2 separate regions of the Homo sapiens genome follow, and region 2 is linked to region 1. Evidence: fine-mapped expression QTL. A gene starts in region 1. The other region holds a variant in brackets. All regions are shown on one strand. Distances are between the middles of the regions. Region 1 holds the start of FAM3D (FAM3 metabolism regulating signaling molecule D). Region 2 overlaps LOC105377109 (a long non-coding RNA gene).

Region 1 (5,376 bases):
TGCCCTCACCTGTCCTCGCCAGAGGAATTCCATACTTTGTGGAATGTGGCCTCCTTTGTGAGGTCCCCCTTCTGCAGCCTGTGCAGGCCTAGATCATTCCCTCTGCGATGTGTGTGCATGTCGGAGGGAGAGGAGTGTGGTGGCCAACAGCATGGATCCTGGAGCTGGACTGCCTGGCCATAAAGCTTCTCTCTACCGTTCATAGCCTTGCCACCTTGGGCAGGTTACCTCACCTCCTTAGGCCTCAGTAGTTCACTGCAAAATGGGGATGATAAGACCTCCCATGCAAAGTTATTGTATTTAAACCAGCTAATCCATGTACAGTACTTGGCACCATTCTATAGACACAGTCAACCCTCCATATGCGTTGCCCAGTTTTGGGACTGCTGTTTGTACTGATTACGTAGAACTTGTTCACATCTCTTGTACAGTGCAGTCCCTGACTCCTTTTACTCTCAATCATTGATGTGACTAATTTATCTGATAGGCTGTGAACTTCCTGAGACAGTGTCTAATCATTTCTGAATGCCCAGTTCCATGCAGACTGCCTGGTGCATAGAAGGTGCACAGCTTGGACAACAGCACTGTCCTATATTGTGCACCTACTACGTGGCAAGCATCATGGTAGATGCTTTGCACACATTGTCTTTTTCAAAATGCACACTGTCAAATCCCAAAGAACTTATTACCGTCCTCATTCTTTTGAGATAAGGGAGGGTCAGACAAGCCAATAAGATAGGCAACTTGCCTAAGGTCACATGGTTGGAAAAAGGGCAGAACTGGGATTCAAATGCCAAAGGCAGGGTTGCTCTCCCCACAACCTCTATGTCTTTGTCTCCCCAGGCCACACCCTTGGGGGAGCAAACCTCTGAGCCTCCAGAAGCAAGGGATTGGCACCAACTGTAGGAAATGTCTGCTCCGCTCCAGGGCACCTGCCCTCTGGGACTGCAGGCTGGGTGGGGGCTGCCAGTCCCCCAGGCAGGCTTGTCGGCTGCCCACTTGAAGTCTCACCAGGACTGCCAGTAGTAGACAGGTAGGTCTCCTCCAAGGGGGAGCAGCTGCCCCAGCACCAGGAAATGTTGGCAAATGATGACTTCGAGCATCCCCCACCGCAGGGAAGTGCCAATGAGGAAGTTAGGCCCCTGGGTTCTGGAGGCTTCAACATTCCTATGGGAAGCAGCAGGGTCTGTGTGTAAAGATGGAGTTGAGCTCAGGAAGAGGTGTGCACACCATGGCCATAAGACAGAAGCCCCTAAACCTCCAGGTGCCCAAGGGCAGACAGGCAGATGCACAGATTTGGGCAGATGCTGAGCAATGGCAAACTCCTCCCTAGCCTGTGCAGACCTGGGCGCAACAACCTCACTGACTTCACCTTCCACCACCAGCTACTACCCCTTTCCTGCTTGAGCTGCTCTGCCCTCCTCTTTCTTTCCTCCTGTTCCCCCTTCTCAGAGATTCTCCACTGACCCAATCTTTTCCTCCCCTGCCCTTCACTCCTGAAGGACCCGGCATTCTCTTGGGAGAAGTCTGCCCTGACTCCCAGGCTATCTCCATGGTGTATGTCAAACTGTTTTGAAAATGACTATCTGTGCAAGTTTTCCCTTTCTGGTTAGAACCATGTATGATACCTCATCTTGTTAATCATTGTGTCTTTTTTACCTGACCCAATTAATGCTCACTGGATGAATCATCTAGAAGGACACTCTTGTACCCAGGCAGCCCACTTCCAGCCATGGACTCAGAATCCACTGCAGTGTAGAGTCAGTGTGGCATAGTGGGCAGGAGCAAAAGCTTTGCAGCCAGATTGCCTGGGGAAGTTATTAAATCTCTCACTGCCTTGGCTCTCCGTCTGCAGAGTGGGAATAATCATGGTGCTTTCCTTGTAGAGGTGATAGGAAGATTAAATGTGTTATTATATGGAGAGCACTTAGCACATCATACATGTTATTTTATGTACTTCAGTGATGATTATCATAGTTGCGTAGACAATGAGAACTTCAGCGATTGATGGGGGATATTCAGACTCTCTCTCCCATTTTACAGATGAGGAAACTGAGTCTTAGTGAAAGGGACTAGCTCAATATTACATAGCTAGAAAATCTCTCAAGTCCATGCACCTTTGTCATAACTTTTCAGATCATTACCTTATGAGAAAAATGAGATTTGGGGCCAAAGAACAACATTCCTTTCTTTTTTATTCATTTTTCAAATATTTGTGTGGCTCACTGTTGATCATTGGAATGTGTTTTTTTGAATCAATAGATGAGTGAATGAAAGAATAAATGTTGAGGGGCCCCTGTGGTTAAGGAAAAAACCCTGCAGTGTGGGTTATCAAATCCCTAGCTGGCATGCCCTACAGCTCCTTCTTGTGCCCATGGCAGACATAGCTAATCAATCATAGCATGCTTTTGCCTGAGCCCGAACCCAGCCCCAGAATCCTTTTTATCACAGTCTAATTTCATTGATCAGGCCTGGTGCCTCAGATGAAATCTATTTGCCTTCCTGAGTCTGATCTCAGGAATCTCTTCGATTATGTGGTTTCCTTCTTTCTTTCCTTTCATCATTCTGTCTCAGGCTCTTTCACTCCTATTTCCCACCCTCCCCACCTCCATTTTCCCCTCTGTCAATCATGTGTACCTGGAACCATAGCCCTTTCCATTCTTGGGGGGACGTACCCGAGGGCTCGAGGCTCCCACTTCCCTGCTTCGATGGAGAAGGCGAGGTGGTCCAGCAGGTGCCGTAGGTCCCTGACCCAGCTGACCACCACCCTGGGCCAGCTTCTGACAGTCCCACCTCCCAGTTGCTGGAGGGGTAGTGGCCTCACAGACGGCCCTCCTCTAGATGCAGTGGGCCCAGAGGGTGAGACGGAGTGTTGCGGGCCGCCAGTGGGCCAGCTGCTCCTGCCCTGCGCAGGCTCTGCCCCTCCTTTGAGGAAGTTTGCCATCAACTCTCCCTGCCCTGTTAAACAATCTCACAAGGAAGGAGGAAGTTTATTCTAAGTGCTCACGGGGCAGGAAATGAGTCTAAAGTCTTGCCTGGCTGAGGAGTGGCTTAGGGCCTGGCTGGGGCCTGGGGAGAAGGGCCATGCCTGTTCCCTTCCTGTAGAGCTATCCTGACCTTGGCAAGGGAGGTTTGGGTGGGAATTCAAGCAACTTAATCAGGAATGAGATACCACAATCTGCCTTCGAAAACAGCCAAAAAACCTTACAAAAAACCCGACCCTGTGCTAACAACCTCCCCAGGCGCTGGGAGGTGTGGGGCTGGTAGAGCGAGTAACTGCAGCTGATGATCACCTGCTTTGAGGTTCTGGACTAGAGTGTGGGGGGGTGCTGGAGGGGCTGACTGGAAAGAGGGGAACCCAGGCAAGAAACTCAGGACAGGAAAGATGGAGGAGGTCAAAGGCAACTGCAAGATATTGAGCTTGGATGATGGAAAAGGGAGGCTTCTTGGTCAAGAGTGAGGAAGATGGGGGAGAGGAAGTGGTTTGGGAAAAGATTCTGGATTTGGGTGGGGCATATTGAATTAGAGGTTAAAGGTGGAGGGGGTGGGGTGTGGAGAAAGGGAAAGACGGAGAAAGAAAAGAAGGGCTGCTCAGTGGCAGACTTTTAGTGAAATGGTGAATGCAGCCTTTGTCTCCCTTCTCTCTCCTTAGGACCCAAGGTGCACTGAGAGGGGCTCAGCTTCCCCCTCCCCTGATCCAGCACTCCCAGTCTTTGTCACAAATCATGGTCTCTTTCCCAAGCGCTTTCCTCTTAGGAGGAGTTCTTGCCTCGGTCCTTGGCACACAGGCTCCTGGCAACTTCCTCCCTTGTTTGCTGACTCTGAATGCTTCCGTAGGCTGTGTGGCCCACTTGGAAGGAATATTCAGGGGCATGAGGTCCAGCAGCTGGTCAGGAAATGAAGATGCATGCCCAGGGAGCTGGTGCAAGGGAAGAGCAGGGAGCGGACCCTGTGTGATGAGGTGCCGGGAGTGGCCCCAGTTCTGCTGTTCCAGCTGCCCATCCCCAGGTAGGCACGTGGGCCCCCTCAGGATGTATCCCAGGGCGAGGCAGTGCTTTCCTTCACTCTGACTGGCTTTAGGACTGGTCCTGTCCTCTGTCCCATCTCCTTGCCTCTTGCTCTCCCTTATTCTGCTAGGACGGTTCTGCCCATAACTGGTGCCTGGGTCTTGTTCAGACCTGACCTGCAGTGTCACTTCCTCAGGGGGGCCCTCCTGACCCTCACTTCCAATATAAATAAGCACACAAGTGTAGGGGAGTAAAAATGGCTTTCTCTACCCTTCTAGCTGCCTTGGCTGGTCAGGAATTAAACTGACAGCAGGGAGAATAACAGGAGAAAAGGTACAGACATTTATCACATGCATGGGGGCATCCCAGGAAAGAAAAGGAATTCCCCACACCCAGTAAGATTTAGAAGCTTGTATACCCTCTTCACAAGGGAGAGAGGGGTGGGGTGTCAGCACCGTAGTGGAGAGTAAATGATTTCTGGGGAAGAGGAGTGGGCCCTCAGCAGGACAGGTGACGACAGCCTGTGACAAAGGCTATCTGGACGTAGTGTGGACCTTTAGACTCCTGTGAAACGAGCCAGTCCTTCCGGCTGATGAGATTCCCTGGGCGGAGATTCATGGCCACTGCGTTTGCTCTGGACAATCTGTCTTTAGACAGAAAAGGAAAACTCGGAAAGCCCCTCCCTGCAGTTGCTGTTCCCCAAGTGACCTCAGTTCAAAGTCTCAAAGTGGCATATTTTGGGGAGTTACTTCGGAACTCCTTCACAAGCAAATCATTTAAAATTGAGACATTCTGTGAAAGAACCCATGAAAGTGATTCCAGGAGAACTTTCCTCAGCAGGTGGTCAGGGAAGGCCTCTCTGAGGAGGGGTGCTTTGAGGAGCTGCAGTAACAAACAAACACAGACCAGCAGCTTCATAACACAGCTGTGAAGCTAACCACTCTGGAGGGCAGGAGCTTGATATGGGTCTCACTGGGTTGGAATCACGGTGCTGGCAGGCTTGCATTCCTTTCTGGAGACTCCAGAAGAAACATTTTTTGTCTTTTCTAGTGCCTAGAAGCCACCTGCATTTCTTGGCTCATGGCCCCTTCCTCCATCTTCAAAGCCAGCAATGTTGGGTCTCCATGACAATTCTTCCTTCCTTACATCTCCCTCTAACTCTTTTATGCTTTCATCTTCCACTTTTAAGGACCCGGTGACAACACTGGGCCCACTTGGATAATCCAGGTTACTCTCCCTATCCTAAGGTCAGCTGATCGGCAACTCTAATTCCATTTGAGACCTTAATTCCCCTTTGCTCAGTTATGTTATATATTCGCATGCTCTGGGGATCAGGATGCAGACCTAATCCCATTAGGGGGCCAAGAGT
Region 2 (5,376 bases), 42 kb after region 1:
CTCATTTAGTCATTTGAAGGCTGTATGGAACAAAGACTGATTTCCCCTGCCCAAAAAGGATTCTGCCAGCAGACTGCCTTGGGTCTCACTGCAACTCTTCCCTGGACCTCCAGTCTGTGGTCTATCCTGGAGATTTTAGGCTTACCAGGCCTCCATAATAATGTAAGCCAGTTTCTGAAATTAAATCTCTCCCTCTATACACACATCCTGCTGCTTCTGCTTTTCTGGAGAGCCCTGACTAATTCATGGCCCAAGCCTGAATTCTCTTTTCTGGGCAGGGGACGAGGAAAGTCTGGTAATACATCTACAGTTAATTTTAATGACATCACAGGTAGAAAGATTCTGGAAACTGACTTTTTTTTTTTTTCCCCTCTGCAGGTGCAGATCATATTTTCTGCTTAGAGCAGATTCCTTCCTGGGCAGACATTGAGCACACAGCCAGCTGCAGTGGGCACCAGAGACATTGCGTCCTTTCTACTCTTCATGTCCTGATCCCAGTGATAATCTTTGAGGCCCCAGTCGGTGGTTCTTTTTTTTTTTTTTTTTTTGAGATGGAGTTTTGCTCTTTTGCCCAGGCTGGAGTGCAGTGGTGCGATCTCAGCTCACTGCAACCTCCACCCACCAGGTTTAAGTGATTCTCCTGCCTCAGCCTCCCGAGTACCTGGGATTATAGGCATCTGCCAGCATGTGCAGCTAATTTTTGTATTTTTGGTAGAGACAGGGTTTTGCCATGTTGGCCAGGCTGGTCTCAAACTCCTGGCCTCAGGTGATCCACCTGCCTCGGCCTCCCAAAGTGCTAGGATTACAGGCATGAGCCACCATGCCTGGCCCAGTAAGTGGTTTTTAATGAGGGTGATTTTGCCCCCTTTGGGTACATTTGGAATGTCTGGAGACATTTTTGATGATCATGCCTGGGAGGTGGATAGTGTTACCGGCATCTAGTGAGCAGAGGCCAGGGATGCTGCTATATATCCTAGTATAGGTACAAGCCCACTGCCACTCCCTAATGAAGAATTATCTAGCTCAAAATGTCAAAGGCACTTGAACCAGAGTGACTCCATCTTGAATAGGGACTCAGTAAAATGAGGCTGAGACCTGCTGGGCTGTATCCTCAGGAGGTTATGCATTTGTAGTCACAGGATGATAGGAGGTCACAAGATACAGGTCACAAAGATTCCACTGATAAAACAGGATGCAATAAAGAAGTCTGCCAAAATTTGCTAAAACCAAGATGGCAGCAAAAGTGATCTCTAGTCATTCTCACTGCTCATTATATGCTAATTATAATGCATTAACATGCTAAAAGACACTCCTACCAGCACCATGACAGTTTACAAATGCCACAGCAACATCCAGAAGTTACCCTATATGGCCTAAAAGGAAGAGGAACCCTTCATTCTGGGAAATCCCTGCCCCTTTCCTGGAAAACTCATGAATAATCCACTACTTATTTAGCATATAATCAAGAAATAACCATAAAATTAGCCAACCAGAAGCCCTCAGGGCTTTTCTGTCGATGGAGTAGTCATTCTTTTATTCTTTTGCTTTCTTAATAAACTTTCTTTCACTCTAGTCTGTGGACTTGCCCCAAATTCTTTCTTGTGTGAGATCCAAAACCCCTTTCTTGGGGTCTGGATCAGGTCCCCTTTCTGGTAACAAAAATGTCAATAGTGCTAAGGTTGAGAAACCCTAATTAAGGTAATTAAATAATAGATAAAAAAGACATTCCTTTCAATCCTACCTTCCAAAAAATGCACACACACTCTCTCTTTCCTTCTCTTTCTCTTTCTAAGATCACTTTGTAAGCTGAGAGAATTATGACAGAGACTGGAGCGACAGCATTTTATTTCACTGTATCTCTGTCCTTTAACACCTCAGTGCTCCCAGCCCCAGGCCTCTTGTGTCCCAGCATAAAATCTGTGAGATTTAAACATATACTATGAGATGCCTTATAAAACATACAGAATATGATCTGACAAGGTCCTTTGACAATGCCCTCTTTCGCACAAAATCTTCAGGCAGTAATTCAATTTCGAGGCTTTTCTCCTATTGAAATACGGTGTGTGACACTACCCAGGCCCTGGACTGCAGCACAATCTTCAGCACTGGGCATTTTTTTTCCTGGGTAATGGATTTTATTTCACCAAAAATAAGCATTAAAAGGCTTCCAAGGGGACACCATTGT[GCTTA/G]CTGATTTTTTTTTTTCTTTGGAAAATGTGAGATGTTGCTGCATAATGACAATAATCATTAACTTTAGGTTTATTCTGGGGTTAATGAATTATTATAGTGCAGTGAAAAATTATTCTCCAATAAATGTTGAATTCCATTTTTTCTGAAACTTCTCTCTCTTTTTTTTATATGTTTGGTATTTTTGTCTTTTCCATTAAAGATGTGCAGATTTCAGATGAATAGAATTTGTCTGTGTTTTCTTTACCTGCTTCTGACTCTTAAAAAAATCCCATGTTAATTATTAAGCTGCATTGGGGAAAATAAATGATATTCAGTAGCTCTCCTATTCCTTAATAAGAGATTCTTGGTGAACTTAGTGGAAACGTATTTTTTAAAGCTAATAAGCTTTAAAAATTGGCCATTTCCACAAAATTTTCAAGTTCAACCTGATGGATTATAAGGCTTCTATCACCAATGTCAATCCTTCTTATATGGATTATTTATGACAATGGCAGGAAATAGATCTGTTGAGCTGATGGAACTGTTTCAGAAGGGCATTCAACACTAGCCAGATCCCTCTATTACACTGAAGCAGTCTCTGGGTGTGGGTCAAAGTTGTCAAAATGAGTTTGAGGACATGCACAGCTTTACTCATGGCTTCCCCCTCACCCACTTCCTGCCCCTGCTCTCCTGTCTGAGTTGTTATCATTGAATGCTTCTGCTGAAGAGTCAGGGGCCCGAAAATCAACTCCCAGGATAATACAACCAACACTCGTTCAACTATTGTTTACTTAGCACCTACTATGGGTCACATCCAGTGTGTAGAAATAGGGACACAGGAGTACAATATGAACCCTGGCCCCAAGGAGGTCACCACCTGTGTTCTCAGAATCTGTACAGCTCTAACCTTTAGCCCTAGGGTGCTGAGACAACACAAAGGACTGCATTGCCAGATCAGACTTGCAAGAATCAGATTTCATCTAGTATCAAACTGTACTGGCAATTTTAAGCGTATTAGTAATTGTGAGGCACAGGCCAAAGCACAGAGAGGGCCCAGTGAAGATCCCCAGATTCTCTCTTGCCACATTAGAATGCCCTCTCCTCCATTAACAAGTGAAATCTAAGCAATGGCAGTGGGAGAAACACACAAAAGAGGGCTCTTTTTGAGAAGTGAAGCTGGCTGGGCTTCTGGGTCAGGTGCGGACTTGGAGAACTTTTCTAACTAGCTAAAGGATTGTAAATGCATGAATCAGCACTCTGTGTCTAGCTAAAGGTTTGTAAACGCACCAATCAGAGCTCTGTGTCTAGCTAATTGGGTGGGGACTTGGAGAACTTTTCTGTCTAGCTAAAGGATTGTAAATGCACCAATCAGTGCTCTGTGTCTAGCTAAAGGTTTGTAAATGCACCAATCAGAACTCTGTAAAAATGGACCAGTCAGCCTCTGTAAAACGGACCAATCAGCACTCTGTAAAATGGACCAATCAGCAGGATGTGGGTGGGGCCAAATAAGGGAATAAAAGCAGGCCACCCCAGCCAGCAGAAGCAACCTGCTTGGGTCCCCTTCCATGCTGTGAAGCTTTGTTCTTTTGCTTTTTGCAATAAATCTTGTTGCTGCTCACTCGTTGGGTCTGCACTACCTTTATGAGCTGTAACACTCACAGTGAAGGTCTGCAGCTTCATTCCTGAAGCCAGTGAGACCATAAACCCACTGGGTGGAATGAACAACTCCTGACATGCCACCTTTAAGAGCTGTAACACTCACTGCGAAGGTCTGCAGCTTCACTCCTGAAATCAGCAAGACCACGCACCCACCAGAAGGAAGAAACTCTGGACACATCTGAACATCTGAAGGAACAAACTCCTGGTACACCATCTTTAAGAACTGTAACACTCACCCTGAGGGTCCGCAGCTTCATTCTTGAAGTCAGCAAGACCAAGAACCCACTGGAAGGAACCAATTCCGGACACATTTTGATCATGAGGCATCTCCATTTGATATTTCAAAAATTACAAAGGTTATATGACATTTTCCAGGAAGACATGCCCCAAAAATCCATGGATCCCACATTTGTTTGCCATGAGTAACTCAGACACTCAGGTATACCTTGCCAAAATCATTCCATGGGTAAGAACTCTCCCCTAGTAAATACCGTCAGTGTGTTTTCCAGAAGGTCTGTCATTATTAGCATGTTTAGAAGAAAATCTGATCAAGTACTTCCCTTTCTTTCCCAAAGCATTCCTTGTAGAGGGAAAGAATGGATTGCAGGCCTACTGCTGGCTCTGTCCTCCCCAGGTGCCATGATTGACTAGCAATGTCTGCCATAGCTGGTTGTGGAGGGGGTTGGAGGGTAGGAGAGCAAGTGTGTGCCTCCAAGCAACCCTGACCAGGCTTTGAGAGAGCAGTGAGTTGCTGAAGGTAACTCGCTTTGAGGCCTTGAGAGAGCAGTGAGTTGCTAAAGGTGATACCAGGGTGTGGTTAGAGAAAAGACTCAAACTCAGGACCCTAAACTCTAGGACTTTTCATTGATATTCTTACATATCATAATGATAACTAGAACAGACTCTGCAGTGAAAAAACCAGATATCCTTGACTTCTCACTAGCTATGATGTTGCCAAGTTCTTAGCCTTTAGATATTCAGAAGGGGAAAGGATATTATCAGTCCCTGTTTTTCCAGGACCTACTCTGAGCCAGATGCTAGACTAAGTGCTTCATACCTAGTATCTGATTTAATACTCCCTGCAACTCTATGGAGTGGGTCCTGTTGTTATTCTCATTTTACAGATGAGGAAACTGAGGCTGAGAGAGGTTAAGTGACTTACCCAAGGTCACATATCTTACGTGTGCAGAGGGGATAGTAAAGGCCACACTGTTTACCAGGGTGTCTCAGTCATGCATTTGGCTAGATTAGAGGGGCTGCCTTTCCAAAAGTGGCTTCATCAAGGGTACCAGCCATCATCTCTACCCCATCTCCTTTCTTACAGTAAACAGCATGCATTTTTGAGTGGTTACTGTTCATTTCCTGTCCTGTGGATGGTGAAGCGCTGTCGTAAGCATGGAGCAAGGTTTTTCAAACAAATTGAAGGGAAAAAATTTGAGGCGAAAGGAAGGTGTTGTGAATGGATTTTACCATCAAGACACTGTGTTGAAGCAACATTCATGCCGCTCTGCTAGCAAAGATTCCTGTTTGCAGGATGGCAGTGGAAAT

What was found. PIP is the estimated chance that this variant, and not a neighbour inherited with it, causes the effect.
Region 2: its variant is the best candidate, but not a certain one, in a credible set for the expression of FAM3D in nasal epithelium (TOPMed, PIP 0.61).

Annotation. Positions count from the first base shown.
Region 1 is chr3:58,663,901-58,669,276 of GRCh38, forward strand. FAM3D (FAM3 metabolism regulating signaling molecule D) reads right to left here and starts at 2,874. Exons shown (of 10, transcript NM_138805.3): 1 at 2,676-2,874. It overlaps LOC105377109 (a long non-coding RNA gene), which reads left to right and starts at 733. Exons shown (of 3, transcript XR_940879.3): 1 at 733-1,033; 2 at 3,653-4,008.
Region 2 is chr3:58,705,544-58,710,919 of GRCh38, forward strand. It overlaps LOC105377109 (a long non-coding RNA gene), which reads left to right. Exons shown (of 3, transcript XR_940879.3): 3 at 379-541. Among named protein-coding and RNA genes, the nearest start is that of FAM3D, 41 kb to the left of the region's middle. The variant GCTTA/G (reference allele first, on the strand shown) is at 2,186.